4 linked regions of the Homo sapiens genome follow. The protein of the gene in region 1 purifies or fractionates together with the protein of each later gene. This does not show direct contact. Each region holds a gene or a part of one and is shown in the gene's direction. Other genes may lie near its edges. The genes, in order: TMEM63A, PIGN, AP3S1 and SLC29A1.

Region 1 (7,404 bases):
CGGATGGTGCGCTCGTGCCAAGGAGGCTCCAGCCATAGGCGCCTAGTGTAGCCATCGAGGGACTTGACTTGTGTGTGTTTCTGAAGTGTTCGAGGGTACCAGGAGAGCTGGCGATGACTGAACTGCTGATGGACAAATGCTCTGTGCTCTCTAGTGAGCCCTGAATTTGCTTCCTCTGACAAGTTACCTCACCTAATTTTTGCTTCTCAGGAATGAGAATCTTTGGCCACTGGAGAGCCCTTGCTCAGTTTTCTCTATTCTTATTATTCACTGCACTATATTCTAAGCACTTACATGTGGAGATACTGTAACCTGAGGGCAGAAAGCCCAATGTGTCATTGTTTACTTGTCCTGTCACTGGATCTGGGCTAAAGTCCTCCACCACCACTCTGGACCTAAGACCTGGGGTTAAGTGTGGGTTGTGCATCCCCAATCCAGATAATAAAGACTTTGTAAAACATGAATAAAACACATTTTATTCTATAATTTTGTAATTTTCTATTTTATTTTAATTAATTAATTATTTTTGAGACAGAGTCTCACTCTGTCACCCAGGCGGGAGTGCAGTGGCCCAATCTCGGCTCACTGCAGCCTCTGCCTTCCAGGTTCAAGCGATTCTCATGCCTCAGCATCTTGAGTAACTGGGATTACAGGCATGTACCACCACGCCAAGCTAATTTTTTGTATTTTTATTATTATTATTATTGAGACAGCTCTGTCGCCCAGGCTGGAGTACAGATGGCGCTATGTTGGCTCACTGCAAGCTCTGCCTCCCGGGTTCACACCATTCTCCTGCCTCAGCCTCCCGAGTAGCTGGGACTACAGGTGCCTGCCACCATGCCTGGCTAATTTTTTGTATTTTTTAGTAGAGACAGGGTTTCACTGTGTTAACCAGGATGGTCTCAACCTCCTGACCTCGTGATCCGCCTGCCTCGGCCTCCCAAAGTGCTGGGATTACAGGCGTGAGCCACTGCACCTGGCCTAATTTTTTGTATTTTTAGTAGAGATGGGGTTTTGCCATGTTGCCCAGGCTGGTCTGGAACTCCTGACCTCAAGTCATTCGGCAGCCTCAGTCTCCCAAAGGGCTGGGATTACAGGCACAAGCCACTGTGCCCGGCTGTAATTTTCCATTTTAATCAAAGCTCTGCAAATTGAGGAAGGAGCAGAAAGTTCTACAGCGATTAGGTCAACCTGATTGTAAAACTAAGGAAGGAGCTTGAGTTGGCCAAGACTTGGTAAAGATCTTGGTTAGGTAATACATGAAACTAGGATTAAAATGCTTTCAGGGCCAGCACGATGGCTCACTTCTGTAATCCCAGCACTTTGGGAGGCCGAGGTGGGCGGATCACTTGAGGCCAGGAGTTCAAGACCAGCCTGGCCAACATGGTGAGAGTGCATTTCTACTAAAAATACAAAAATTAGCTGGGCATGGTGGTGTGCGCCTATAATTCCAGCCACTCGGGAGGCTGAGGCATGAGAATCGCTTAAACCCAAGAGGCGGAGGTTGCAGTAAGCTGAGATCACACTACTGCACTCCAGCCTGGGCAATAGAGTGAGATTCTGTCTCAAAAATAAAATAAATAAAAATAAAATGCATTCTGATTCTAGAATCTATGGTACCTGCCCTCCCAGAATTGATACAGAAATTTCTTTTTTTTTTTTTTTGAGACGGAGTCGCCCAGGCTGGAGTACAGTGGCAGGAGTGCAGTGGCGCGATCTCCGCTTACTGCAAGCTCCGCCTCATGGGTTCACGCCATTCTCCTGCCTTAGCCTCCCGAGTAGCTGGGACTACAGGTGCCCGCCACCACGCCCGGCTAATTTTTTTGTATTTTTAGTAGAGATGGGGTTTCACCATGTTAGCCAGGATGGTCTCTATCTCCTGACCTTGTGATCCGCCCACCTCGGCCTCCCAAAGTGCTGGGATTACAGGCATGAGCCACCGCGCCCGGCCAATACTGAAATTTTTTTGTTCTTGACACTTTGACTTTCCTGGGCATAGTGACTGGGCTTTATTCCAATCCTACTTGCATCAAAATAAAATCTGTGATCAAAATTATCATCTATACTTAGAGAAGAAAATAAAGCTTCAGAGGATCTGGAATTTATAGCTGTAAGAGCTGTGCAGCTGGGCGCGGTGGCTCACGTCTATAATCCTGAGGATCACCTGAGGTTGGGAGTTTGAGACCAGCCTGACCAACATAGAGAAACCCCGTCTCTACTAAAAGTACAAAATTAGCCGGGTGTGGTGGCACATGCCTATAATCCCAGCTACTTGGGAGGCTGAGGCAGGAGAATCGCTTGAAGCCAGGAGGTGGAGGTTGCAGTGAGCTGAGATCACACCACTGTACTACAGCCTGGGCGACAGAGTGAGACTGTGTCTCAATAAGTAAATAATTAATTAAAAATTAAAAAATAAAATAGTGATTTTACAAGCACTTCACACAACTGACATAACAAAGGCTGTGGCTATCTCAACTCACATATCGATCCATCAAGGCCTTCTCTTGATTTTGAAATAACCTTAACCTACTCAAGAACAAATTTAGAAATCCTTTCTCTCTCTGAAATCTTTGTCAGTGGCTCCAGCATTCTAATTACCAAGACCGGAACCTTGCACTTGCCTGGACCCATGGCACAGACCAGACAGGTGGGGGCACCATTCATTGAGGAAGGAAGGAGGACAGGCAGGTGCGGGAGTGGGGAGTGGAAGAAAGATTGGACAGGGACAGTCTAAGGAGCCAACGGGGAGTCCAGGGGCCACACCCAGGACTCTGCAGACCGTCAGATGTGGAGGTAAGAGAGCAGGGAGGGGGGATGGCCAGGCGCAGCTATGGAGGGACAAGGGCAGAGATGATACTGGCGGGGGGCATAGAGGAAAAACCCTGGAAAATAACTAGTGGCTAGAGCTTTGGGGAGAGAAGGGGAAAGACAGATGGGACAGAAAAGAACTGAGAGAGGCAGGAAGAGACCCTCCCCACCCCACTCCTGGACAGCCACAGACTGGCGCTAGAATCAGGGACAGGGAGGTAAGGAGGAATTTTTTTTTTTTTTTTTTTTTTTTTGAGACAGAGTTTCGCTCTTGTTGCCCAGGCTGGAGTTCAATGGTGAAATCTCAGCTCACCGCAACCTCCGCCTCCCAGGTTCAAGCGATTCTCCTGCCTCAGACTCCCTAGTAGCTGGGATTACAGGCATGTGCCACCACACCCGGCTAATTTTGTATTTTTAGTAGAGACGGGGTTTCTCCATGCGGGTCAGGCTGGTCTCGAACTCCAGACCTAAGGTGATCCGCCCACCTCGGCCTCCCAAAGTGCTGGTATTACAGGCATGAGCCACCGCGCCCGGCCATAAGGAGGATATTTTTATGCCGTTACAGAAAAAGATGAAAGCTCAGAAATGGAAGGGAGGTCGGAGAACCTGCAAAGGCATGCATGTGGGGTGAGGACTGCTCAGAGCTCAGAGAGGGGTGCTGGAAGGGACCTGAGAGGAAGCTTTGGTCCAACCACTCATTTCACAGATAGGGAAACAGGGGCCTGCGGACGGGTTGGTTTGCTCCTTGATTCCCAGGGCGCGCGGTCCTCCCCGAACCCAGCCTCGCTTCCCGCGCAGCGCCCAGCAGTCCCTGGCGCGGCGGGCCGGCCCTGCCCTCGCGAGCTTGCGGTCCGGTTGTGGAGGCCACCGGCTCCCTGGAAACATTTGGCTCCCGGCCGGGAGGCATGCCGCGCTCTCGGACCTGGGCTGGAGTAGGTGCCCTTGGCGGCCCTGGCTCGAGCAGTAATGGACTAGCCCCAGGGGGCGTTGGAAATGCTGCGACCCGCCCCCACATTTTTGCCCGAACGGAGACCCTCCGGGCTTTCACGGTCCGGCCTTCTACAGCGGCGGGGGAGCCGTGGCCTCTTGCAGGGCGCTCCGCGCGGTTCCCGACTACCCGGAGCCGAGGTGCGGGCTGAATCCTGCTGAGCTCCCCATGCTACCACCCCCGCAACCCCACTCTCCCGGGGCGGGTCTAAGAGCTCTTCGGGGAAATTCAAAGCACTACAGGGACCAACGTTTGCAGATGCTCTCCCTGCGCCGCGACCACCCTGTGCTTGGCCCAGTTCTCCCGGAGGCGTCCAGAGACTGGGCTCGTGCCGGGGGACGGAAGAGGGTGCGCCCCGGCGGATCCCTTCTTGGAGCCTGGACGTGAGCTGGCCGGTCCGGGGCTTGCAGACCTCCGGGAGGAGCTGCGGGGCTGAGCGGCGACCAGGAGGCCAGGCCGGGGCAGAGGACCGCCGAGGGCCACCGCGGGAGGCGCAGTCAGCTGCGTACAGGCTTGCGCCGCCGCGGGCCAAGACTCCAAATTGGGAAAGGGGTGGCCGCAGCTCTGCGCATGTGCAGGAGGCGCCGGAGTTTCACTTTGTAACTTTTAAGTGGTCGGAACACGCCCCGCGCTGCTGGGTCCCGCCAGACACGCCGCCGCCGCAGGTACAGGGGACAGGGGGCGTGAGGAGGGGCAATGCACCCTCCGCCTTTCCCGGGACGTGCGCGCCAGGTGTCCGGTTCCGGAACGGCTCCCAGCCTACGCAGACCCCAGAGCCCCCGACCCCAAGCAGGGGGTGACGACGCGGGATTGGGTGGGAGGAGAGGGTCCGGGCAGCGCCTCCATTCCAGCCCTGCGCTCCTTGGGAATTCCTGGCGGCTTTTCAGGACTTTCCTCTCCGGCTTTTCGCTTTCAGGGCTGGTATCTCCTTCTTCCCCACCCCTCTCTTTGGGATTTGTCGGCGGAGTCCGACCTCCCACCTAACTAGGAGTGCAGCTATGGGCTCCTCGGACCCTATACGAGGCCGGGCTGGGAAAGGGCCAAGCGTCCGACTCTCCTGACGCCAGGAAGGCAGAGGCCACCCCTCGGGCTGTTCCTGGGTGACCACTTCCTGCAGCCTTGGCGGAGTCCTGAGGAGGGAGGCTGGGGACTCGGGGACTGGGGGGAAGGGCGGGGGCGGAAAGGGTGAGGCGAGCTCTGCTAAGAAACCAAATCCGCAAAGGTTCCAGCACCTGATAAGACTAGCTACCTGAGGCCCTGGAGGGGCCTTGGTCATTCAGCCCCAGGCAGGTGGTGTCCTCTTCAAGGGCAGGGGTGGACAGCGTGGCGGACCCACTGACCCTCCCTTGACACCTCTCAGGTCATCCTCAAGTCTGCTGTGCCTTCAAGGGGGATATGAACGGAAGCCGAGGCTCCTTTTCCCTTCACACGCCCCTCTCCTTTGTTTAGTGTGGGGGCAAAGGTCTCTCCTAGCTGTTCGTTGGGCTCTAACAGAGAAGACGTCAGGTGGGATCCTGCCCTTGTGTTTCCCATTAGCTGGAGGGGCGACTTAAAATAAAGGCAGACAGCTTCTAATTGCTTGCTAGGGCCGGGTCCTGGGCTAAGTGCTTTACAGGTGTTGTTTGGGATCTGTGCCTCCCAACAGCTCCGTGAGAGAAAGTCATCACTCGCATTTCCTGGCGAAGGAAGCCAAGGCACAGAGTGGTTAGGCTGCTTGTCTGAACTGCGTGGTGCTGAGACCCTAACTCCAGAGCCTGCTCACATAATCCCTGAGCCACACTGCCTCTGGTTTCAGCCAGGGGCTGTGTCATTTCCTTTGTGCTCCAGGGTAGGAGGTAAACAGTTGTCCAGGTTACTGGGTCCTGTTTGGTGTTGCCATAAGGAGAAGTTTGTACTTTACTTTGCAACCTTATTCTGCATCTGAAAGACCAGAGTTAGCTCCTGAGGCAGAAGGCCTGGAGCTGCTTGTAGTTTCGCTATTGTCATCACAGGATTGAAAGATTTGGTGATGATAAAATTACCCTGAATTTGTACGGGCCTTCTTGCAAGAACGAACAATATCCATATACTTCCTGCAACATTCTGCTGGTATTTCTAGAGCTTGTCAAGTTGACCACCAGGCCAGTCCTTGCTGCCAATGGAGACTGGCAGTGGATTAGCATAGGTAGTTTACTTTGGCAAATTTAGACCAGCTGTTGGATTTAGCCCTCTCCCACTGGCCACAATCAGACGCTTGCCTGCACATGGGTTGAACTTTGGGTTGGGAGCGTGAAGTCACCTGCTGCCCACTCTGGCTCTTGGGCCTCAGCAGTAATTCTTGGCTTTCCTACCCTCGGCATATTGAGTAGGAATAAGGGGATGAATGGAGAATTTCTGGAAGGCACAGGTAAGTGCTAGGCATTCACATACATCTAGGATGACTGAATATTGCCAGGGGTTCTCAGCCAGGCAGTGCCACTTCAACCACAGTGCCTAGCTGCTGGTTTGGCCTCCTCTATACAGCTGCCAGCTGGGTGCTCCCCTCCCCCTGCCTTCTCCTCAGCCTGGCAGCACTGTCCCATGGTGTCTGTGTTCCCAGCTGCCTGCTCAGAGCGTGCCTGTTTGTGAAAATGCAGAGGAGCTGTCCCATGGAGAGCCAGAGGGACGGAGCTGTTTCAGGGGGATCTGGACTTTATGTGTCTAATGGGCAGGGACAGGCTGGGACTGAGCTGAAAGGTCTGAGAGAGATTGTGGGTCCCCAGAGCTCTACCCTAACCTGGGTGCTCATCGGAGAGGGCAGACAGGACTGGCCACCTGACCTTACCTCCGTCTCAGGCTGATAGTATTTGCTAGCCACCTCCCTGAGTTCATATCAAACTTTGTCAAACCACCCTGGGAAGCCTATTTGGCAAGAGACAAGTAACTTAGAGGCATGACTGGGGCTGGAGGGAGGGGGAAGAGGAGCCGCAGGTGTTTCCCTCCGCAGAGGCCTCTCTCCTCTGCAGCACTGGCGAGGGTATGCCACTCCCAGCACCACCACAGCACCCTCCCCTTTCCAGGGACAATGCTCTCTCTGTGAGCATTTTATGGGGATGTTTTTTCTTTCCACTTCACATTTCAAGCCTTCCTTGTTCATGCTGCTGTGTTCCCTTTTCCTGATTCTAGCTCTTGGGGAACCCTGGGGAGCCTCCCCAGTAGCATTGGCCCTTGGGGCCCAGGTGAAGTCCTTTGCTTGGGGCCCTACCGTGAGCCCACAACCTCCAGGGTTTCTGTGGGAGAGGGCTGCTCCCCTAGACCCAGCAGGTCCCTGAGCCATTGGCAAAGAGGAGAGAGGCTGGGGCCACAGGTGGTGCTGGCCGAGGAAGGAGGAGTAGGGTCGCACAGAGGAGCACTGATGGATGGAGAACCAGTTCTGGGAGTTTGGGGAGAGATCAAGGCAGGAGGGAGCCCACTGGGCAGAACCTAAAGGTCCATATGGGCAGCATGCATACACAGGTGTGTGCTGGAGGGTTTCCATCCAGACCCCTACACTGGAAAAGGGTGGCTCCCATGTGATGCTTGGTGTCTGTGATCCTTCAGGAAAGTCTACAGTTTGGTACCCCAGGACTCGCTGGTCAGGAAAGCCCTGC
Region 2 (7,044 bases), on another chromosome or scaffold:
AATTTTTTATCCCCCCCTTTTGGGGATAAAACCAAAAAGGAATGATCTAGAAATACACACAAAGACATAGATGACTTTTAAAAACATGCTGAAGGCAGATACACAAAAAAATACGTTCTATGATTCTATTTATATCGAATTTTAGAACAGGCAAAACTTATCTAAAGACGTAGTTCTCAACTGGGGCAATTATGCCCTCCCCTTCCCTGGGCAATGCTGGAGACATTTTTGGTGGTCATAACTGGGGTGGCATAGGTATGGGGGTGGTTGCTAAAGGCATCTGGTGGGTAGAGGTCAGGGATGCTGTTAAACATTTTATAATACACAGGCCAGCAGCCACGGCAAAGCATTACCAGGCCCAAAATGTTGAAAGTACCCAGGCCCAGGTTGAGAAATTCTGTTCTAAGTGATCAGTGGTGGTCTAGATGGAAGTAAGGATATTGAATGAAGGAATTCTGGGGATAATAAAAATGTTCTGTATTTTATTTTATTTACTTTTATTTATTTATTTATTTTTGAGATGGAGTCTTGCTCTGTCGCCCAGGCTGGACTGCAGTGGTGGGATCTCGGCTCACTGTAACCTCTGCCTCCTGGGTTCAAGCAATTCTCCTGCCTCAGTCTCCCGTGTAGCTGGGATTACAGGTGCCCACCACCACGCCTAGCTAATTTTTGTATTTTTAGTAGAGAAGGGGTTTCACCATGTTGGCCAGGCTGGTCTCGAAATCCTGACCTCGTGATCTGGCTGCCTCATCCTCCCAAAGTGTTGGGATTACGGGCGTGAGCCACTGCACCCTGCCGATGTTCTGTATTTTAATTGTGGTAGTGACTGATTTGTCAAAACTCACCAAACTGCACACACTTAAAACGTGTAAATTTTACTGTATGCAAATTTTACATCCAAGTTGATGCTAAAAAGTATAGTGCCTGTATAAGACTATGTTAAACAGTTTAATCCATTTTTTGTTTTTTAAAACACATGCACAGAAAAGACAGGTAAGGCAACTACCATTAAAGACAGGAAAAGCAAATACCATTGGTGGGATTATGGATAATTTTGAATTTTTTGTCCTGTTGTTCATTTGCTTAGTATTAAGTAAAAATTTAATAAACTTGATGTGTACACACACACATAGAGACAAACACAAACACTTATATATCCAGTACCTAAAACAGGTACAAATAAATGAGGATAATAGAAAAGCACAGGTGCACATGAATATTTAATTGTGATATTTGATCATAAGACTCTAGTTATTTCAAGAAAGTATAAAAATGTATAATGCAAAGGCACTTAGAAGTAAGGTTTTACTCTAAAACACTGCTAAACTATTTAATGAGCTCAATTATAATTCTTTCAATACAAAAAGTTTGCAAGGAGGAATTTTCACTAGAAACAATGCTATGATAGCCCTAATAAGACAGGGTGAAAAGGTCAAGAAATTCTTTAAAATTAAATGAATAAAGTTACCAACTAAGGAATAATCCATTTCACTGTATTAATACGGTTGAAAACACAGCAGATACAATTCAGTTATGTTCATCAACAGCCAGGGACTGAGCAAAGTGTGAGAAATTTATTATAAAAATGTCTCTGAAGAACTGACCAATGGAGAAAAATGGTATTGTCAACAATCACATACAAACGGGCTAAAGGCTATGATGGAGGTTTGAAAGTGTTAACAATGAAAGAAACCAAGCAACTACCTAAGCCTGGAGGAAGCATGTACAAAGGTGACATCTTAGCTAGACCTTGTCTGGTGAAAAATCATGAGATAATTTAGAAATCTTAGAAATAACACAAAAACCAAAAAAAAAAAACAACAAAAAAAAAAAACAAAAAAAGACCCACCACCACACATAACAATTTTGTTACACTACTGTCTCATTTTATAGTCTTAAAGGTCAGCAATGAGAAAATCTTTTCCCGAAAAAGAAGATTATCCTACATATTGGGTAAGGAAATTATAACTACTGAGAAAATCCCATATCCAAGGGGGAAATATATTTAAGATTCACCTTGATAGAAAATGCACTCCCTAAGCTTCCACCACGTCTACGTTTGGCAATTTAAGTCTCTGGCACTATTCAAAAGCATAGTGATTAAAAAAAAATCAATTAGGCTGCAGTTTAAAAATTCTATATGAATACTTGTTAATATAGAATTAATATATGGCCTCATACTAAAACATCTCCATACATTAGTAAGGGAATATTTAAGATACCTCCCAAAAGGGAGACACTGGGAATCCTACATACAGTACACTACATCTTTGACAGTAAGTTTTCAAGCCATAAGAGATGCTTACGAATATATGGGGTAAACGATTACTCTATGCTGCTAAAAATCATTCCAAGGTAAAAAGGTCAATTCCTATCTAATGCAAAGAGAAAAGCCTGCAAGGTGGTGGGATGGTGAGACAGACTGCTGGTAGAACCTGTCTGCCTTGCTCCTTGGATTTCCTGTAATTTTGGACATTACTTAAATTAAGGCATTGAAACTGAATTACATCAACTTTATCTCAACAGAACAAATTTTGTGCAGCAGAAAACCCAATTTTGGCGGTGAAAAAGTCGTCCCAAAGACAAAGGGTCTTAAGTACATCTGACTTTTCGGAGACAGCAGCAGTGTGTCCTATTCTTTCTCTCCTGGCTCAGACTCAAAGAACTACTGCAGGCAATTCAGGTAACACTATTTCCTGGTAGTGTGATTCAGGTAACTGGAGAAAAAGGAAAATGCTTAAAGCAATAAACTAGTATAAAAGGGAACCTTCTGGAGTCCCGTAATAGCCAGTGAACTAGAAACTCTTGATATTTTATAGATACTGACACCAGTAGGGGAGCCAGGAGCCAAGTGCAACACCAGCCAAGGGTTGGAAGCAGGCAGAGAGAACAGTCATTGCCTGATCCTCTTGCTTCCACCGCAAAAGAGCGCCCCCACCCCAATACTCTCGTTCCTTAAAATGTCCCTATCGGGACCCACGCAGAAATACCCCCTCTCCCCTACAGTAACTCCGTACAATCCCAAATACCCTGCCGGAGTGTGACAGGCTGCGTCCACTTACTGAGCTGTCCCCCGCCCGACGCTGTACTCGGTTCCCGACCTCCAGCGCCCCCAACGCCGGCTGCTCCAGGGACCCCTGGCGCCCCCATCCCCGGCGGGGTTCCACTTTGCCTCTCGAAGTTGCCTGGATTGGAGAAGTAGTCGCGCAGCCGAGGCAGCTCCCGGCCACTCTCTAACAGCTCGGTATGCAGCTCCAGGGCGGTCAGCAAGTATTGATCGCGCAACAGCTGAGCAGCGATCGCATCAATTGATAATCGGGCCGGGGTCTCCCCGGTGCCCCCCAGGGCCACTGCAGCCGCCGACGCCTCCCCAGGGAGCCCTGGCCGCGCACTGCTTCCTAAGGCCACGGGATCCTGTGGCGACAGCGAGCCCGCAGAGCCAGGATCTAGGCCACTTCCGGCGCCCAGCCGAAGTACTGCCCGCCGTTCCTCTGTTGCAGCTACCTCGTCATCGTCCTCATCCGAATCACTGAGAAATGGATTCACGCCGCCACCACTGCCACTACCTCCAGGCGCCATCGCCGCCATCTTATCCTGTCAGGAGTGTGGGCGCCTCCCTGACTGGTTCCGACGGGCCGCAGCCCGAATCCTCTAGGCCTCAGGGGACACAGCGCACCTCCACAGCCCCGGCCTGACCACGTCCTGCCTCCCGACTTAGAGACAAGGAGTACGCTCCAAGGCAGGAGATCCGGATGCAGCTGCACCTGATGCCTCAGCCTCTGCTGCACCAGCAGCCCGGCTCTGCAGGCGTCTTCCTGGTCTCCAGTCTCGCGAGAACTGGAGCGTGCCCCTGCCCCTCTCCCCGATCTAGCCCCGCCCCAGCCCCGCCCCAGCCCACTTCAGCTCCGCCCATTCCCAGCGCCAGATAGCAAAGATTGAAGGCCCCGCTCTCCGCTCAAAAGCAAAACTCCACCCACGACTCCTCCATGATTGGTCAGAGAAGGAAGGCGTGGAGCGGACTGACGGGAGACTGGCCCGAGAATTATCGCGATAGCAGCAGCGGCCGGGCAGGTATTGGGGGCGTTCCGGAATTGAGGGGTGGTTGTAGTGGTGGCTTAGGAATACCCTCCCGGCTATCGCTTCAGTGGGTAGAGGGGACCACTGCCCGAGAGCTTTAATGGAGCTGGGTCCTGCCTTCGCGCTGAGGAGCCCTCGTTTTCGAGATCAGGCCTGACCGGGATAAGCTCCAGGTAAAGTTCAGGGACCAGTGCGCGGAGGGTGTCGGCGCCCAAACTGTGGTGTCGCGCCCGCGGACGCGCTGTTTCCCTACTGCGCTGCACTTTTTCTCGCTATTTGCTGCCAGTGGTGACATTTTGTCCCCATGGATAGCAAGTGCCCAGGCCTGTAGTCGGAATGTGACTTCCTTTCTTTTCCCTTCTCTGCCACATGCTTGCACACTCGGGAGGCCTAGCGACAGCACGACTTCTCAGCCCCGGAGGTGGTCCTGCCTGTGGGTGGGGACGGGGGCTGGAGAGACTAAACGGAAAAGGGAACGCTGAGGTTGGCATTTGCCTGGATCTGGGAACATCGTCGAGTTGGAAAACAAATTGTTAGGTACTCAATAAACGCTTAGGATTTAATACACGATTTACACAACAGGGACCCTTCAGAATATCTAATGCTGTCTCACCAGTAGACAGATAAGTAAACTTAAGCCAAGAGTGGTTGTTATAAAATCAGCTCCACGCCGGGCGCGGTGGCTCACGCCTGTAATCCCAGCACTTTGGGAGGCCGAGCCGGGCGGATCACGAGGTCGGGAGTTCGAGACCAGCCTGACCAACATGGTGAAACCCCTTCTCTACTAAAAACACAAAAATTAGTTGGGCGTGGTGGCGCAAGCCTGCAATCCCAGCTACTCAGGAGGCTGAGGCAGGAGAATCGCTTGAACCCCGGAGGCGAAGATTGCAGTGAGCCGAGGTCGCGCCACTGCACTCCAGCCTGGGCGACAGAACGAGACTCCGTCTCAAAAAAAAAAAAAAAAAAAAAAAAAAATCAATTCCGCTAATAAGGAGTCAAAGGAATTAACATCATTTCTCTTATGTCCCAAACGATTCTTTATCCACTGTCTCCTGCAACATTTCTGACTCGTTCATGCAGGCTAGAATCAAGGTTTTGGAACTTAGAACTATTTTAAAAGTTGAATGCTTCAGAGAGTTTTGATTTTTTTGATGAAATGTTAGCATATAAAGTACATATCCTAAGTTTAGAAGATCAACGTTTATCTTTTATGTCATTCCTTGATTATGATCTGAAAAGGTAAAGGAATTTCCAGTCAATACAATTAGACTGCTATTTCTTATGGCTCCTATTTTTTTCACACACAAATGACCACTTTTCCAGGCTTTAGATTTCCTTTCTTAGTGTACAGGTAAGTGACATATTACATTCAGTGTGTAGTAAACATTCCACAGTAAAGTATCTCCCGTTAGCTCCATGGAAAAATTAAAATAGACGATTCTTACATAACCTTAGGTCAGGTTATTGGTTTACATGTAAAAGTATGCCAACAGTTAAGAGTAGGCTTTAATTTCAATATACCCAGGCTCAATAAACTAAAATTTTCATTTGAATGGGGATTTGGGTTTTTAAAATTTTATTTTTGCTAGAAGTTTAAAAAAAAAGTACCAAGAATTTAAACTATTTTTTTATAGGACATTAGTTCCCAATGTTTTAATGATAAATAGTTTTCTGTGCCATATATTAAAAGTAAAACATGGGGAAAAAAATCCCCCCAAATAGAATTGAAATGGCAAATACTGTATCCTGTTAGAGATTTCTTAGCAAAAGGGATTGCTGATCCGTATTTTAGTTGGATTTTCCAGAGAGATTAAAATGGAACCAATTTCTGGAATCCAGGAATGGAGGATTAGTGAATGGCATGGGAAGGGCATGATTAGAAATGGATTGTTTATATACAATATTTCCATCTCCATGATTGGGAAATTGAGAAATCTCCTGCATTTAGGATTCCTGAAGAGGATTATGCTTATAAGATAGAAAAGCTTAAGTTCAGATCCCAATTCTACTCATTATTTATTGTGAGACCTTGAAAAAGTTACCTAACTTCTCAGCCTCACTTGCATTCGTCTATCAAAGGGGATAAGGAAAGTACACAGAATTGAGAATGTTCTTGTCCCAGTGCCTGGTACCTGCTACACAATAACTATTACTGTGGTCACTTATTAATTATTGAAATATTAGTATGTGTTGAGAACATTTGACAAGTGTTTAAAAATAAAACTAATATCAATCGTTTTGGCAGTGCAAGCCTGAAAAAGCAATTAAGTCAGTAGGGCTGAAGGGAGTATCTTTAATTTGGGGTCTCAGTTCTAAAACACAAGTTGAAAATAGATTTAAAATGTTTCCTCAGAGTTGTAAGAACTTGCATGTAGAGGAATTCTTCCCATACAAATCTGTGGTTTTCTGCTTCTATTTCTGCCTCCTATCCTATAACCATGAACTTGTGTGTTTGATCTTGTAAGCCCATTAGAAATCAACTGCCCAGTCTTCCCAGTATGTACTTTTCTTTTCCACAATACACAGAGGTTTGGTTATTCGTGAATAATGTATAAGTAACACACACTGGAATATTAAAAATTACCGATCACTACTTATAATAATGTATTATTAATAGTGTTGGGAAATTTCCTTTCTACTTAGTAAGATTTTCATTAATCTAGGCCCTTACAACTAATGTTTCATCTGACTAATGATAGTTATTAAAGCTTGTGCCTTAGCAATGAAGATGTAAAAGATGCCTTTTTTCAAAGCACGTCAATCATTTTAGTATTTAAAAAATTATTTTAGGTTTTAATAGTCTTAAAAGAACCACAAGTAATATTCTGAATGCAAGTTTTGGTTGACTTGAGGTTTTAGTAATACCTCATGTTTTATTGTTTTTCAGTGTGTGGTAAACATCCACAGATAAACTAGATAACTTGTATTGGTACATGCATATATCTTTTTAAAATTTTAATAGTTATG
Region 3 (7,570 bases), on another chromosome or scaffold:
AGGCAGGAGAATCGCTTGAACCAGGAGGAGAAGGTTGCAGTGTGTCACTGCACTCCAGCCTGGGCAACAGAGCGAGACTGTCTCAAAAAAAAAAAATGAATAAATAAAAATAAAGGGATAAAAGGGCATAACAAAAGCGACATATGTGGCTCCATATGCATTTCTATAAACAACAGTTAATTCACTGTTGCCTAGGAACTACTGCAAATTTTTGTAGGAAAACATCACCATTGGTTTCATACCAACTGTTCTGAGGCCACAAGTTTAAGAAACTTTTTGATGAAGTCAATGAGTCCTTGGATGGTTCGTGTTCGCTCTACTGCCCACTTCTTTGTTTTCATAATAGGAGTGTCTCCCACAGCCTTTAGCAAAATGTCAACTGTAAAAGAAGAATAAAATTTACTGACAATTACACTGAAACATCTAAAGAGAATGGAATATAAAAGACTTAGAAATCAGAAATATTTAATCTACATCCATCTTACGTATTTATGATACTGAAGATATGTGAGAGATGTAAAAATGTTAGATTCTTTTCCATCATTTTTTTCTTGATCCTACAAAGTTCTCCCAACAGGACTAATTTTTAAAATGCCTTTTATCTTAACAGGCAGTTCCAAAGAGAGGAAATACAAATGATCAATACACAAACAATATTTAAGTTCACAAAAAGCAAAGTAAAATAATGTCATGTCCCTTTTCACCCACCAAACTAGTTAAAATTAGAGTAATTACCAGTGTAGATGATACTACTTTTGAGAATGTAAAATGGTATACCCTTTGTGGAATGCAGTATGGTAATACAGATCCTAATAAAGGTATACTTTGATTCAATAATACTTCTAGGAATCCAGTGTAAGAAAATATGAGATGTGTGAAAATTCACTTAAAAAGATTTCACCTCCATTTAAGCATTTATTTTTATATGAAACACTGGTAAACCTAAATACCCAAAAAGGATATTTGGAGGTGACTGATTAAATAGAATGTAGTAAACCGCATACACTTTTAACTGCCTGGGGTTCGAATCCTGGCTCTGCCACTTGCTGGGTATATATGTGGATATTTAATCTCTCCAACAGCATGTATAATATCTTAAATTCATTAAAAACCATCACAAACACATTCACATAAATATGGAAGAATATGCAACAAAATGATATTTCTCAGTAGTGACATTGTAGGCAATGATTACTTGGATTTACTTATGCTGTTTGTAACTACCAAATTTTCTGTAATAAACTTTTTAATAAAGGAAAGCAATAAGTTATTAACAATAGAACAACCAAAGCCAAAAAGAAGTTGCAGAAAGAGAAATCTTAAGGTTTCAACGATCCAAAACACAGATATGCAAACCCAAACCCTATGAATCTGTCTCTCAGACATAAAGTTATTTGCTAAAACAAAACAAACATACATCTGGCTGGGCGCGGTGGCTCACGCCAGTAATCTCCACACTTTGGGAGGCTGAGGCAGGAGGATCACTTGAGGTCAGGAGTTCAAGAGGGCCCAGTCCCCTTCCAACTTCTTGTTCACGACCAGCCTGGCCAACATGGTGAAACCCCATCTCTACTAAAAATACAAAAACTTAGCCAGGCGTGGTGGTGCATGCCCGTAATCTCAGCTACTTGGGAGGCTGAGACAGGGGAATAGCTTGAACCCGGGACGCGGAGGTTGCAGTGAACCGAGATTAAGCCACTGCACTCCAGCCTGGGTGACAGACTGAGACATCCTCTCAAAAAAAAAAAAAAAAAAATCTACAGTCAAAAAGCAAGACACATTGAAAGCAAAACAGTGTATTGCTGCCCCCTAAAGTTAACTCTATTCTATTACACCCTTCTTGCTCCATTCTTTAGGTATTAAATATTGGGGCCAAAAGATCAGAGGTCATTTTATTCAAGTTTACTCCTGGAATGAACGCATCTAGAACACATGATCTTTATCTTCCTACTAAAGAACTACTTAATTATCCTAGGTCCAGTTATCTTAGGAATAGGAATGAATTTGGAGATAACGTGGGATTTTAGTTAGCCTATCTTTCATACCTCCTTTCACTGCTCCCTCAAATCCCCTGGGGCTATCAATAAATCGATTAATTCAATTAAACATTTCCAGAAAGTGAAGCAGGAAATATCATGAGTTATGCTACCAAGGATGAAGTGTAAGACAGTGAGAAACCAGAGAAGGAAAATAATTTAATTATAGCTGCCCTCTCTTTTTAATTTTAAAGGTGATTTGCTTGTAGTTCTGAACCCGGATACACATTAGAATCAACTAGGGAAACACTTACTCCCCAGGAAACCTAACATACCTCCAGTGCCAAAACCTTGGTCTGTTTCAACAATCTTTCTTCTGTAGATTAACAAAGGCTGAGGATACAAAACAGTTAAGCTGCTTTCATCATATTATCCTCAACAAATAATGACAAGCACAAGGTAGGAATAGTTAGAAACTAAGTTTTATATTGGAGAGGCAAACTCAAATGCTAACAAGAGCCAGAAAATAAAAATCTCATCCTTAAATGACAGTTCAATTTGCAAAAAAATACTGTCCAGACCAAGAAAATATGCCCTCGGGCAATATTTAGATTGTAAGCCATTTTTTTTAGCTTTTGTTTTGCACAGCTATCATCAGAGTCAAGTAACAAGTTTTGACTAAGACTGTTAGACCTTAAAACGAATCTCCGAACGTCCGCTCTTGCCTATAGTAAATTGGAAGAAAAAATGCAACAAAACACTGTAAAACCTGCGGAATTCTTTTGAAGAAAGATTCCAGTGGCTATCCATGGAAATACTTATAGTGCATCAGGTGGAAATGGGAGTCTGATTTAAAGTGGGAAGGGGGGCAGTCTTGGGAGAGAATTATCCTCCACAGTAGCAGAAGTTGAAGAAAAAGCAATGAGACCAATGTCTTTTTTTTTTTTTTTTTTGAGGCGGAGTTTCGCTCTTGTTGTCCAGGCTGGAGTGCAATGGCGAGACCTCCGCCCACTGCCACCTCCGCCTCGCGGGTTCAAGCGATTCTCCTGCCTCAGCCTCCCGAGTAGCTGGGATTACAGGCGCGCGCCACCACACCCATCTAACTTTTATATTTTTAGTAGAGATGGAGTCTTACCATGTTGGCCAGGCTGGTCTCGAACTCTTGACCTCAGGTGATCCACCCGCCTCAGCCTACCAAAGTGCTGGGATTACAGGAGTGAGCCACCGCGCCCGGCCAGAGACCACTGTCATCTTAAGACAGAACGGGGAAAACGTCTAAGGACGAAATCAGCCTCTCTGAATCGAGGATGCTTATATGCTGCTTTTCCCATAGGCAACTCTAACTCTAAACAGAGTGCTTTAGAACACGTAATTTTAGCAATCTCTTTTACAAAGGGAAACATTCTCAAGCAATAAAGGGTTGAGGATAGCTGACTCAAGCAATGAAATAACTCACAAAGGTTCCAAAATGTGTTTCTTAAAAAGGTAACATCTATGCCTTTAGCTTTCCCTTAGCAGTCTTCATTCTGCATAAGAATTTGGTTTTTGGTTTAAGGAGTGAATTCACAACCAACTGGGAGGGGGAAAAAAGCAAAAGCGAGTTAAGTTGGAAGGCATGAATTCTAATCCAGGCTTTGCCAATGACCACCCCTACCACCATAAAACATTACTCAAATAATTAGCTCCTGTGTTAAGTACCTGGAATTACCGAGACCCCCCTCCCCCCGCCCCACTCAGCTCCCTCCCTCCTTCAAAGAGCTCGCAGTCTGGCCAACTCAAAAAAATACAGTATAAAAATAAGTGTGGCAGCCAAGTATCAGGCCCTACACCGATAGACAGAGATGGTATTTTAACACTCAACTTAAAGGCCTTAAAAATCAAAAAGTACACTTCTTTTCTTCTGATGACTGGTCAAAATGCAGGTCTAGGACAGGCGCTCCTCTAAATTTTGCTTCTTTACTGGCCGCCACCCCTACTCGGATGCAATCTGAACCTCCCGCCTCTCTGCCCGGAAATAAATTCAGTTACTTTTTTTCTTGGTGTCGCCAGCAGGTTCCTCTGTTCCCGGGGAAACTGCAGCGGAAGACGGGGGCTCCGGGGTGGTTGTTTCTGGGGAGACATCCGTAAGTCCTTCCCCTCCAGCAGCAATTGAAGTAGGAAGCTGCAACACAGACTGCGGCTCCTCCGCCATCTTGCTTGGAGACACTCGAGAGCGGAAGTAGCGACTGAGCGCGTGCAGTGGGCGTGCTTTTCTCCAGGGAGCGTCGCAAAGGAGGCGCCGGAGTAGGGGGACGCAATTACACAGTGAAACTTGGTGTTCCCGGCTAGTCATTCAAATCGAAGCTGTCGCAGACCTCTGAACGTTAGTAACGCAACATGTGTTTCTCCGCGACTACAGACCTCGGGAGAGGAGCGGTGGGCAACGTGTCTGTGCTCGGTCGAATGCGCACACTCCAGTTAGGCCGCTGGCTCGGACCTAGAAATGTTTCCGCTTTCCTTAGTGCCTGCCCCGCCCAGGCCCCGCCCCTTGGGCCCCGCCCGACGGCTCGGGAGCGCGCGCGGTCGCGTGCGGGAGGGGGCGGGTGGGGAAGGATCGCAGGCGAGATTACGAGGCGAGGCTCGCGCGCCCGCCCCCGCCCTGGCCCCCAGTGCCCACCCGGTCGGCCCGGCACAGCCATGATCAAGGCGATCCTAATCTTCAACAACCACGGGAAGCCGCGGCTCTCCAAGTTCTACCAGCCCTACGTGAGTATCCAGCCGCCGCTGATCCGGGCGAGGGGGAGTCGTTGGCGACGGGCAGCGCCCAGCGCGGCTTTCTCAGAGCGACCCCCTCCGGCGCGCTGCGGCCCTTGTCCCGTCCCGGCCGCCTGGCGCTCGCCAGCTGTCAGCCTCCTGGTGGGTGTGGACAGGGTGCCCACCTCCCTGCCGCGCGGTCAGCCACCGACGTGGCTTTGCCCGGGCGGTTCCTCCGCCCGTCGGTGGGCTGCATGCTTTCCTGGCTGCGCGGGCGAGGCCCTGGAGACTTCCCGGGGCCCGGCCCTCGCCGATCGGGCAGCCGCAGCCCAGCCGCGCCGCGGAGCCCTGCGCCCAGTCCCCAAGAGCCCACCCCGCGCGGCTGCCTTCCTGCCGCCCGCGGCTGCAGTTAGCCCGGGAGGAGGAAGACGGCGTGGAACTCGTTCTTCTCGCCCCCCTCCGCCGACTCCCATCCTTTCCAGGTGGACTTCTTTCTGTTCTTTGGACAGATGGGCTACCGTTTTTCACTGTGGTCCTCTCATAGCACAGGAACTTTGGCTTCCTGCGTTTGATAACTGCACGTTCTGTACAGTCTCTCTTCTGCATGTTTCGATACGTGACAGACTGCCCAGTGTGACTTTCAGGTGTCTCCTTATTGAAAAGGAAGATATGTGAGGACCTAATATTTTTATCAGGCTTTTTACCAGCTGGCTGCAAATTATTTACCCTCGAAGTAACCGGCGACGTTTGTAGTTGACTGATTGGAGCTGTGGTTCTATACCTAAAAGTTATGATTTCAGCTTCTGGTTTGGCATTTTTCCACGTATGGGAATTTGCCCTCATTTATAGTTTTTTTCTATTTATGAAGAATAGTAGCATTTGTAGAACTTCTCTTTTAACGTGTAAATACTGTTTAGTATGGACAAGTGCAGGAGGCATTAAGGTAGTAGAGATAAGTGATTTGTTGATGATCGAGGAAGGGTTTTATAGAGTTATGTGCTTACCTGAGGGCAGAATTCGCTAGCTGAAACACATAAAATTGGACTCCCAGTGGTAGGATTAATGTGAGGTATAACTGTTGTGTGGTATTGTGGCACTTTGCTTATAGCAAGAAATGAGCTTTCAATTCAATTTTGAAATTGTGCCAAGGCTAACACTTTTATGCAGATAAGTCCCAGATGGAAATCAATCTTGCCATTACAAAGTAAATGTGAAAATGTCAGTTTGCCTAAAATGATAATGCAGTCTGGAGGTGTTAGTTGAAGTGAGAAATCTTGAGCTTATTCTTCATTTTTTTCAGTTGTTTTGCTTTTGCTAGCTATAAAGAATATTTTCTGCTACTCGTGTGTGGTTTTAATTTAGTATAACTTCAATACTAATGGTCTGTTTAAAAATTCTACATCATTCTTTAATCCAGATTAAATTCTAGTTGATCCTCCCGAATGGGAAAAAATGCCATTAACTTTACCTGTTTGTTAAAATATAGTACCAGCCTTTATTGAAGGAGTCTTTGTCATAACCATTTTGCCAGTGTCATCCATTTGCAGTGTAAAAAAGGTATGTTGCAATAGTAAAACAATTCAAAAAATTATTTTTCCATATCTAAACTTAAGCAATATTAAAAATAGTGGGTTTCCTGGCTAATCCATGTAATCGGTGTATACTACTCGTATAGTGTATAATTTAACTATCTATTGAAAAATGCATTTAATTTAGAAACTCAGAAATCTGTCTTTCCCTTGTCCAAAAGTGGGAACAGAAGTATTGTTTACCATCACTTACTAGGTAGCAGTGACGGTTAATGTGGGAAGTGGCAGTTTTGGCAGGAGTGGCAGCTCTGGTGGCATTTTTGGCCATTGTATGAGTGACAGTGCCACTGAGGGCACAGAGCTAGAAGATATAAAAAGAAGAATCTGGTGGTCACTGGCCGTTTATAGGTGGAGTATGAGAAGTTGTTTCTGTGTTTTAAGTTTCTATAAGTTGGGTTTTGCCGAGTGTTTTTTTGTCTTTCAGGAATAATTTAAGATTATTTATTTATACATTTGCTTCCTCCACTAGACCATAACCTTTTTGAGGGCAGTTATTTTTTTTCAGTCATTCATTCCATCAGTTTGTCAACGGATAAATTTAATTTATGCCTACCATGTGCAGGCACTGTTTTAAAATCTGAAGATGAACAGATAACTTTCGCTCTTGTGTGAGGAACATAGCACTATTAAGGAGTAGGCTGTATTATAGCATGCCAGATAGTATTACGTGCTGTGGAAAAAAAAATAAAGCGGGTAAGAGTCTTAGAGAGTGAGAGGATGACAGTTTAAAATAGGGTAGTCTGGTAAGTTCTCACTGAGAAGGTGGCATTTGAGCAAAGACTTGAAGGAGGTAAGAAAGGCAGCCTTGCAGATATCTGGGGGAAGAGCATCCCGGGTAGAAGGAGCAGCAAATGCAAAAACCCTGAGGAGAGCGCCTGTTTGAAGAACCCCAGGAACTTGTACATAGCAGGAGCAGACTGTGTAAGGGAACATTAGTTGGAAGTGTCTGTTTGTGTAGGGCGTCATTCTATTCTTGCTGCCTGGAATGTCCTTCCTTTCCATTGCCACGTGTACAAATTCAACCCCTTGTTCTAGGCCCAGCACAAACATCACCTAAACATTCCGTGAAGCCTTTGATCTTGCTCAAAGCCTCCTCCTGGTTTTTAGGATTTTTTTCATCTTTGTTATGACACAGTATTCTCGTTCACAGCCTATAATTCCTCGTGGCAGCCATCCTATAGAATACTTGAAGGAACGTATCAGATTTTAGGTATATTTTTGTCATTCTAAGCAGTCAACACTGAGTCTTGAACATAGAAAACTCTCTAACTC
Region 4 (7,222 bases), on another chromosome or scaffold:
GGAGGCGACCCAGGGGGAGGGGCAGAGAGAAGGGGGTCCGAGCCCTTGGGCCCCTAACCCCGTCCCTTTCCGGAGCCTCGGGTGCCCAAAGGCGCCGGCCGCCAGTCCCAGGCCCGAAGGGCCCCTCCCACTGAGTCGGCTCTGGTCTCCCCGCCCCTGAGCCGCGAGGACTGGACGCAGCTGGCTGCGGAGCTCTGGGCGGGCGCTGGGGTCGCCTGTTGCAGCCTCTCTTCCGCCCGGCGGCCCACACCGGTCAGGCCCGGCGCGGGCTGCGCTCTCCAGCTGTGGCTATGGCCCCAGCCCCGAGATGAGGAGGGAGAGAACTAGGGGCCCGCAGGCCTGGGAATTTCCGTCCCCCACCAAGTCCGGATGCTCACTCCAAAGTCTCAGCAGGTGCGCGGGGCGGGGCCGGGGGGCCTGGCGGGGCGGGGTGGGGTGGGGGCGAGGTCTGCGCCGTTCTCACGCTGCCGGGCGGGACAGGGGGCCAGTAGGGGGACCCGCTGGGCTACAGTGTCTCAGGGGAGTCAGAATCTTTGGTTTCTGGATGCGGGGCCACTTTTCTGGGCCTTCGAAGGCCATTATTAGATGACTGCCTCCCCAAACTCCCCAGCCACTTACAGATGTCCCAGGAACATAGGGTAGGGGGAAGAGGTCTGGAAAATTAGCCTAGAAGACCAGCCCAGACCTAACTGAACAAAGAATTTAGTCTTCTCGAACCCCGAGCCAGTACCCACACTGTGAACACACCTGTCTTTACTTAAAAAATCTTGATGTTTTATTCATCATGGAGTCTTTAAAAAAAAACAAAAACCGAGTCTCGCTCTGTTGTTCAGGCTGGAGGGCAGTGGTGCGATCACAGCCTACTGCAGCCTCGACCTCATGGACTCAAGCCATCCTCCCACCTCAGCCTCCCAAAATGCCAGGACCACAGGCATGCGTCAACATGCTCAGCTAATTTTTTTTTTTTTTTTTTTTTAAGAGACAGAGTCTCCCTGTGTTGACCAGGCTGGTCTTGAACTCCTAAGCTCAAGTGATTCTTCTACCTTGGCCTCCCAAAGTGCTGGGATGACAGATGTGAGCCACTGCACTTGGCATCATGGAGTCTTGATTTGTAGACATTGCATTAAAACTTATTTTGGTAAGGGCTGGGTGTGGTGGCTCACGCCTGTCATCCCAGTGCTTTGGGAGGCCAAGGCGGGCGGATCACAAGGTCAGGAGTTCGAGACCAGCCTGACCAACGTGGTGAAACCCCGTCTCTACTAAAAAAAAAAAAAAAAATACAAAAATTAGCTGGGCGTGGTGGCACGTGCCCGTAATCCCAGCTACTCAGGAGGCTAAGGCAGGAGACTCGCTTGAACCCAGGAGGTGGAGGTTGCAGTGAGCCAAGATCACGCCACTGCACTCCAGCCTGGGTGACAGAGTGAGACTCCATCTTAAAGAAAAGAAAAAAAAAAACAAACTTATTTTGATTACATTAAAATGTATCTTTGTTTGTTTGTTTGTGTTTTCAGACAAGGTCTTGCTCTGTTGCCCAGGCTGGAGTGCAATGGCAGGATGATGGCTCACTGAAGCCTTGTCCTCCCGGGCTCTAGTGAACCTCCGGCCTCAGCCTCTGGAGTACCTGGAACCACAGGCTCGAGCCACCATGCCTGGCTAATTTATTTTAATTTTTTTTGTAGAGATGGGGTCTCACTGTGTTGCCCAGGCTAGTCTTGAATTCCTGGGCTCAAGTGATCCTCCCACCTCGGCCTCCAAAAGTGCTGAGATTTCAGGCATGAGCCACCACTCCTGGCCTAAAATTTATCTTGATTCATGAGTTTTTTGGCTCCCCCTTACATTTTACACCCCTGGCAAGTGCCTCACTGGCCTCTCCCTAGTCCCAGCCCTGTCACAAGGCCATGGAGATACAGTCACAAACACAACTGAGAACACAGACAGTCATGAGACATGTGCTGGTTACCAACCCCCAGGCCAAGCAAACACACTTCCAGCAAACACACATGACTTGTTGGTGACAGCTGAGAGGACACATGCCTGGGGAGAGAGAGGACTGTGTGTGAGGTGGTGAGGCATGCATGGGGCCTGCCAAGTTGGGGAGGGAGTCTGGGCCAAGCCACGGTCCCATATAGGGTGGTGAATAAGGTGTAGAGTAGAGGTGCAGCAGGACCAACCCTTCCCACCCCACCCCTTCGACAGGGACCTGAGGGAGCTCAGGGAGGGAGAGAAGCCAGAAGACCAGGCAGAGACTGAAGAGAGCTGGCAAGGCCTGGCTAGAAAAACTCCAGGCAAGGCCTGTGTAAGTTGGGGCTCCCAGGCTGTCCAGCAGGGGGCCCTGGCACCCAGCAACCTCTGCTTGGGAGGTGGCTACAGAGGGGTGTGGGTGTTGGCTAGGGGCCCAGCAGGATGGATGCCAGACGGACTTCTCTCCAACAATAACAGCCCTGGCTGTTGCCATCCACCGAGCTGGCAGGGCCCCAGTTTGGGTGGGGAGAGGAACCAGCCTTTCCCAGTCTGGCCTGAGACCCTCACCACTTCCCTCCAGTTTTCTTCCACCTCCAGCCCCCTCTGTACACAACTGCAGCCACTGGCCACCAGCCTTGCCATGCCTGGCAGATCTTCTGACCACTAGCCCTGCCACCCCCACAGACCCAGAGACCAGGAAAGGAGGGTGGGGAGCGAGGAAGGGGGCCAAGGCAGAGGGCAGAGGAGGGCTAGGAGAGGAAGAGAGAGAGACTGGACAAACATGAGGGCAGGAATTAGGGGGTTGTGGACAGACATGAAGCCACTCTCAAGTCATGGGGCTGTGCCTGGAAAAATACCACCTAAACCCATCTTCCTGCCCTCTGGTTAGGGCTGGCGGGGATGTGGGGGATGGGGGTGGGGTGGGGGAGGGTTGGGAAGGAATATGTGTGTCATCTCTGTGGGGCATGGAAACAGAAGGCTGGGGACACCCATTCTGGAGTAGCTTGGGGAGAGCCACTGACCCTAATTAGAAAAGCCACCTCTCTCCTTAGGGCCCTGTCTGTTTCTCTGGGGACAGGGTAGGACTACCTTATCCCTATGATGTGAGGTACTGCCAGTTGTTAATCAGTGTCTGTGGCTTCTCTAGGGGACAAGCCCTTCGGGTCAGTGGGCATGGGGTGGGCAGCGTGGGTTGGATTTTCTCCTCAGGACCTTTCCAGCCTTAGGATCATCCTCTAGCACTGAGTACTGCTGGAAGGGCAGGGAGTGCCCCCCACCCCACCCCATTTATTGCCCGACCAAAGAGAGGGCCTCCCTCCCCCTCCCTTGGAGGGACTTGCTGGACCACCCCTCAGCACGCCCACACCTTCCTCCTTAGCTAGTGAAAGACATACTCAGCAAGGCTTCCGCCTGTCAGGATGGCTGGGACAATAGGATTCACTGAGGATATAAGGCTGTTCCTAGCTTTTTCTCTTCCCATTCCCACCTGTGCCTCAGTTTTCCAAAGTGCTGGATTTAGAAAGGGTGAATTATGAGGGAGCTGGAGGGCTTTGCCCCACCCCCCTCCGCGCGCACACGCAAGCACAGGCAGAGGCACATACCCCCTCCAAGTCAAAGTTGTGAGTGGGGTGGTGTTTGCGCGTCTGTGGCTGGGACTGGATGTGTCAGGGATGGGAAAACCCATCATGCTGGTCACAGAAAATGCGCGGTGGGGACAGAAGCAGTTTTGAAGGAAAAGAAGAGGAGGGGGACTGAAAGAAAGAAGGGGGCGCTGAAAGGGAGGGCGCTGGGAGGAAAAAGGTGCAGTGTGGAGGAAGCGCGGCGTGGGCAGGGCTTGGGAAGGGATAACGGAATATCTGAGGTGGAGTGGGCCGTGGAGCGTCGGGGCCGGTCTGAGCAGCGGGTGTGTAAATGGAACAGTCCCGAGATGAATTTTATGGGAGTCTGCGCAGGTCCTTAATGTGTGGCTGTACCCTCCAGCCCCATGTACCCCACACGATGGACAGACAGCCTTGGTGTGGCAGGGCCCAAAGAGGTCCTATCTACCGCAATAACACGACCAGGCGGCCCTGGGGGCGCAGGGGCTCGGGGTGGGAGCGGCGGAGCGCGCGGAGTCGCCGCGGGGTGGCAGGGGTGGGCCGGGGGCGGGGCCGCGGGCGTCGGGGAGGTGGCAGTGGGCGCAGGGCGGGGCGAGCTCAGCGGAGGGCGGGTTTGAATGTGCCCCGGCGGGAGAGGGAAGCTGCAGCGAGAGCGCGCGGATCTCAGCGCGGGAGCAGTGCTTCTGCGGCAGGTGCTGCCCGGGGCCGGGGACTGGGGACTGGGGACTGCCGGGGCGGAAGACGCCGCTGCCCGCCTGCCACGGAGGGCAGGGAGGGCGGGCCTGACGGCTCCGCAGCCCGGAGAAGGGACGCCGGGTGGGGCCCCAGTGCGGAGCGTGCGGAGCCGCGCAGCACGTGGCGCGCACGGGCCAGGGAGCCTGAGGACCCTGCGGGGACCGGGACCCAAGCTGGGCGGGGCGGCCTGGCTCCCGGGCCTAAAACAGGCTGCGGTCACGTTGACCTCCGCAAGGGGCAGGCGAGTGGACGGGTGATCCCCATCGATCTGGTCGGTATCAGGGAGGGGCCGTGCCGCTGACTGCGCTGGCGGAGGGGTATGGGGATGGGGATGGGGATGGAGGCTCGCGAGCGGAGGTGCAGGCTCGCGAGCGGAGGTGCGGGGCTGTCTCTTTAACCCCGGTCTTTTACTGGCTAAACTCGTATCCCTGGCGTCTCCTTCCTGCGCACGTCTTCATTTACTGATTTACTGTGAGGGTATATGAGAGGGTGAAGACAAACAGTCCTCGGCTTTGCTTACCAGGAGAGAGCAGTCGTAGGTCAAGGCTGGCTCCAACCCTGCCCTCACACCTCTAGGGGTCTCTCTGCAGCCCTGTGGTAGTCCCTTTGCCTACTCCTCTCGGTGGCCTCCAGACCCTCCAACTTTCCTCCTGCTTGTGTAAGCTCCCCATGCCAGGATGTGTGTGATGGGGCGGGGCTGAGCTGCCTGACACTCAAGTCAGGCTGGGAATGATCTTGGTCTCCACCTCATTTTTCCCTTTAGTTGAATCAGAGTTCCCCCCACCTCCCAGTCTACAGGGCTAACTGAGAAGCAGCTTTTATACCTCTCTCCATTCCAAAAGGAGCTTGAACATTTAATATGGATTCTAGCTCCTCCACTCACCAGCTCTGTGACTTCAGGCAAGTGACTCAACCCCTCTGAACCTCAGCTGGCCCCATCTATTCAGTGCTAGTACTAGCTTATGGGTGGTTGTGAAGAAAAGACAAGAGATCTGCAGGTAGTGGCTAGCCCCATATGAAATCCTGGGAGTGGAGAATTGCAGGAGAGGTGTTGGGAGTCTGGAGGCAGGGAGGTACTCAATTTGGTGGCTACTTTCAGGGGCCCACCTCAGCAGGCCAAGGCATAGTTGGAGGGACACCAGATGCTCTGAGCTGGTATCAGATCCCTGTTTGCCGCTGGGCAAAGGCAGACAAAAGCAAAACACGAAGGCTGGCCAGCTGAATGTTAGGATATGGGCAGGAGGAGAGGGCTGGAGTTGAATTGTGCCCAAGACTGGTATGGGAACTCCTGAGAACAGAGAGAGCAGGGGTGTAGCAGGGGGCCAGGGAAGAAATAAATACTTCTTCTCTAAGCCTAAGCCAGTTTTACCCAGGAGAACAGGAGCTATTCTCCCCACCCTAGGCCCCCATCTGCTTTGAAGCTACACCTGCTCTTAACTGCCAGGAATCTTGCCTGTGGGGTGGAGTACGGGGTATGCGGGTATGAAGTAAGAACCTAGAGGAAGAGTCCCTACTACCTAATAGAAAACCTGAGACCTAGGCAGGGCTCAGTGGCTCATGCCTGTAATCCCAGCACTTTGGGAAGCCAAGGTGGGTGGGTCACCTGAGGTCGGGAGTTCGAAACCAGCCTGGTCAACATGGTGAAACCCTGTCTCTACTAAAAATACAGAAATCAGCCGGGGGTGGTGGCAGGAGCCTGTATTCCCAGCTTCTTGGGAGGCTGAGGCAGGAGAATCACTTGAACCTGGGAGGCAGAATTTGCAGTGAGCCGAGATCATGCCATTGCACTCCAGCCTGGGCAACAGGAGCAAAAACTCCGTCTCAAAAAAAAAAAAAAAAAGAAAAAATCTGAGACCTGAGGCTTTCCCCCACCCCCACTCCAGTAATGCCCTCTTGCCTTCATCTCTCTAGAAAATGTAAATATGATTATTCACCCCTCGTGCCTAGGACAGTGCCTGGCTAGCATGCACAGGTCCTCAGTAAATATTTGTCGAAGGCCTGAATGGAGGAATCCTTCTGCCTCTATCTGGAGGTGTGGGGCTGAGGGGCTGAGGAGGACCTCTGAGAGCTTGGAGTTTCCCTGGGGAGGGTTGAGAGGAACTACAGGGAGGTGGGAGAGCCCGTGGAAGGTCTCATGGTGCCCAGCTGCTTCTGTTTGTCTGAGTGGGGCCAGAAGCAATGCTGCACCTGCGAGAGCTCCCCTGCTGAGACTCCCTGTTCTCTTATCTCCCGAGCGACAGGGGTGGCTTTTTATCTCCTGGGTGTGCTTCTGCTTCTTTGCTTGCAAGGCTTCTCAGAATGGGGCCCCATGAAGCCTGAGGGACTCTCTCCTGATAACACCCTGTGCCACCTTTTTCATTCTGGATCCGCACCCAGGAGCCCGTGGACAAGGCCCACTGCCTGAGCCTGAACTAGGAGCACCTCCTAGGGACTGCCCAGGCTTGCTCTGCTCTGACCCTTCTGCTGGCCAGTCTGGGCACCTGGTGAGTGCCCAGAAAGGGAGGGAAGGGAAGCTGTCCTTTCACCCCAAACAGCAAGGCCTGGGCCCAGCTAGGCCTGAGTGTGGGGAATGTGTCAGTGCACATCTGCCTGGCTTCCCATGCCACCCAATGGGAAAGCTGTTTAATCTGCTGGTGCCAGGGGGTCTCCCCCTACACAAATGGGGAGCAGGAGAGGGACGCTGAGGCAGAAGGATAGGTGCTTTGGGATCCACCCCTCCAATCTTCTTTTCAAGGTCACTCTTAGAAAGGGGAAGCGGACAGGAGCCTGTGACAGAGAGGAACTAAGGGAGGACTAGGTGACCCTGGGGTCGGGAGGGGGGAGGGGGAAGGGCTGTGCCCCCACATCCATTATGAAATATTTTCTTGGAAAACCGGCCAGCAACTAGGAAGCCCCTGGGCAGTGGCTGGAAAGAAAGGTTAAGGTGC

Evidence for each region.
Region 2: the proteins of TMEM63A (region 1) and PIGN purify together in Homo sapiens (affinity purification with mass spectrometry; 2 studies listed by BioGRID and IntAct, with this or other methods). This does not show direct contact.
Region 3: the proteins of TMEM63A (region 1) and AP3S1 purify together in Homo sapiens (co-immunoprecipitation; 3 studies listed by BioGRID and IntAct, with this or other methods). This does not show direct contact.
Region 4: the proteins of TMEM63A (region 1) and SLC29A1 purify together in Homo sapiens (co-immunoprecipitation; 2 studies listed by BioGRID and IntAct, with this or other methods). This does not show direct contact.

The regions. Positions count from the first base shown.
Region 1 is NC_000001.11:225,879,361-225,886,764, reverse strand, and holds the start of TMEM63A (mechanosensitive cation channel TMEM63A), read left to right. Parts: upstream 1-4,384; 5' UTR 4,385-4,461; intron 4,462-7,354; 5' UTR 7,355-7,404. Other genes in the region: LEFTY1 (left-right determination factor 1 preproprotein), read left to right, coding at 1-38. UniProt on the Homo sapiens protein: Mechanosensitive cation channel with low conductance and high activation threshold. In contrast to TMEM63B, does not show phospholipid scramblase activity. Acts as a regulator of lysosomal morphology by mediating lysosomal mechanosensitivity.
Region 2 is NC_000018.10:62,184,050-62,191,093, reverse strand, and holds the start of PIGN (GPI ethanolamine phosphate transferase 1), read left to right. Parts: upstream 1-4,037; 5' UTR 4,038-4,250; intron 4,251-7,044. Other genes in the region: RAB11-binding protein RELCH, read right to left, coding at 3,063-3,588.
Region 3 is NC_000005.10:115,837,386-115,844,955, forward strand, and holds the start of AP3S1 (AP-3 complex subunit sigma-1), read left to right. Parts: upstream 1-4,549; 5' UTR 4,550-4,652; coding exon 4,653-4,721; intron 4,722-5,101; exon of another isoform or gene 5,102-5,191; intron 5,192-7,570. Other genes in the region: ubiquitin-like protein ATG12, read right to left, coding at 243-379, 4,005-4,167. UniProt on the Homo sapiens protein: Part of the AP-3 complex, an adaptor-related complex which is not clathrin-associated. The complex is associated with the Golgi region as well as more peripheral structures.
Region 4 is NC_000006.12:44,219,390-44,226,611, forward strand, and holds the start of SLC29A1 (equilibrative nucleoside transporter 1), read left to right. Parts: upstream 1-4,205; 5' UTR 4,206-4,252; exon of another isoform or gene 4,253-4,566; intron 4,567-6,671; exon of another isoform or gene 6,672-6,778; intron 6,779-7,222. UniProt on the Homo sapiens protein: Uniporter involved in the facilitative transport of nucleosides and nucleobases, and contributes to maintaining their cellular homeostasis. Functions as a Na(+)-independent transporter.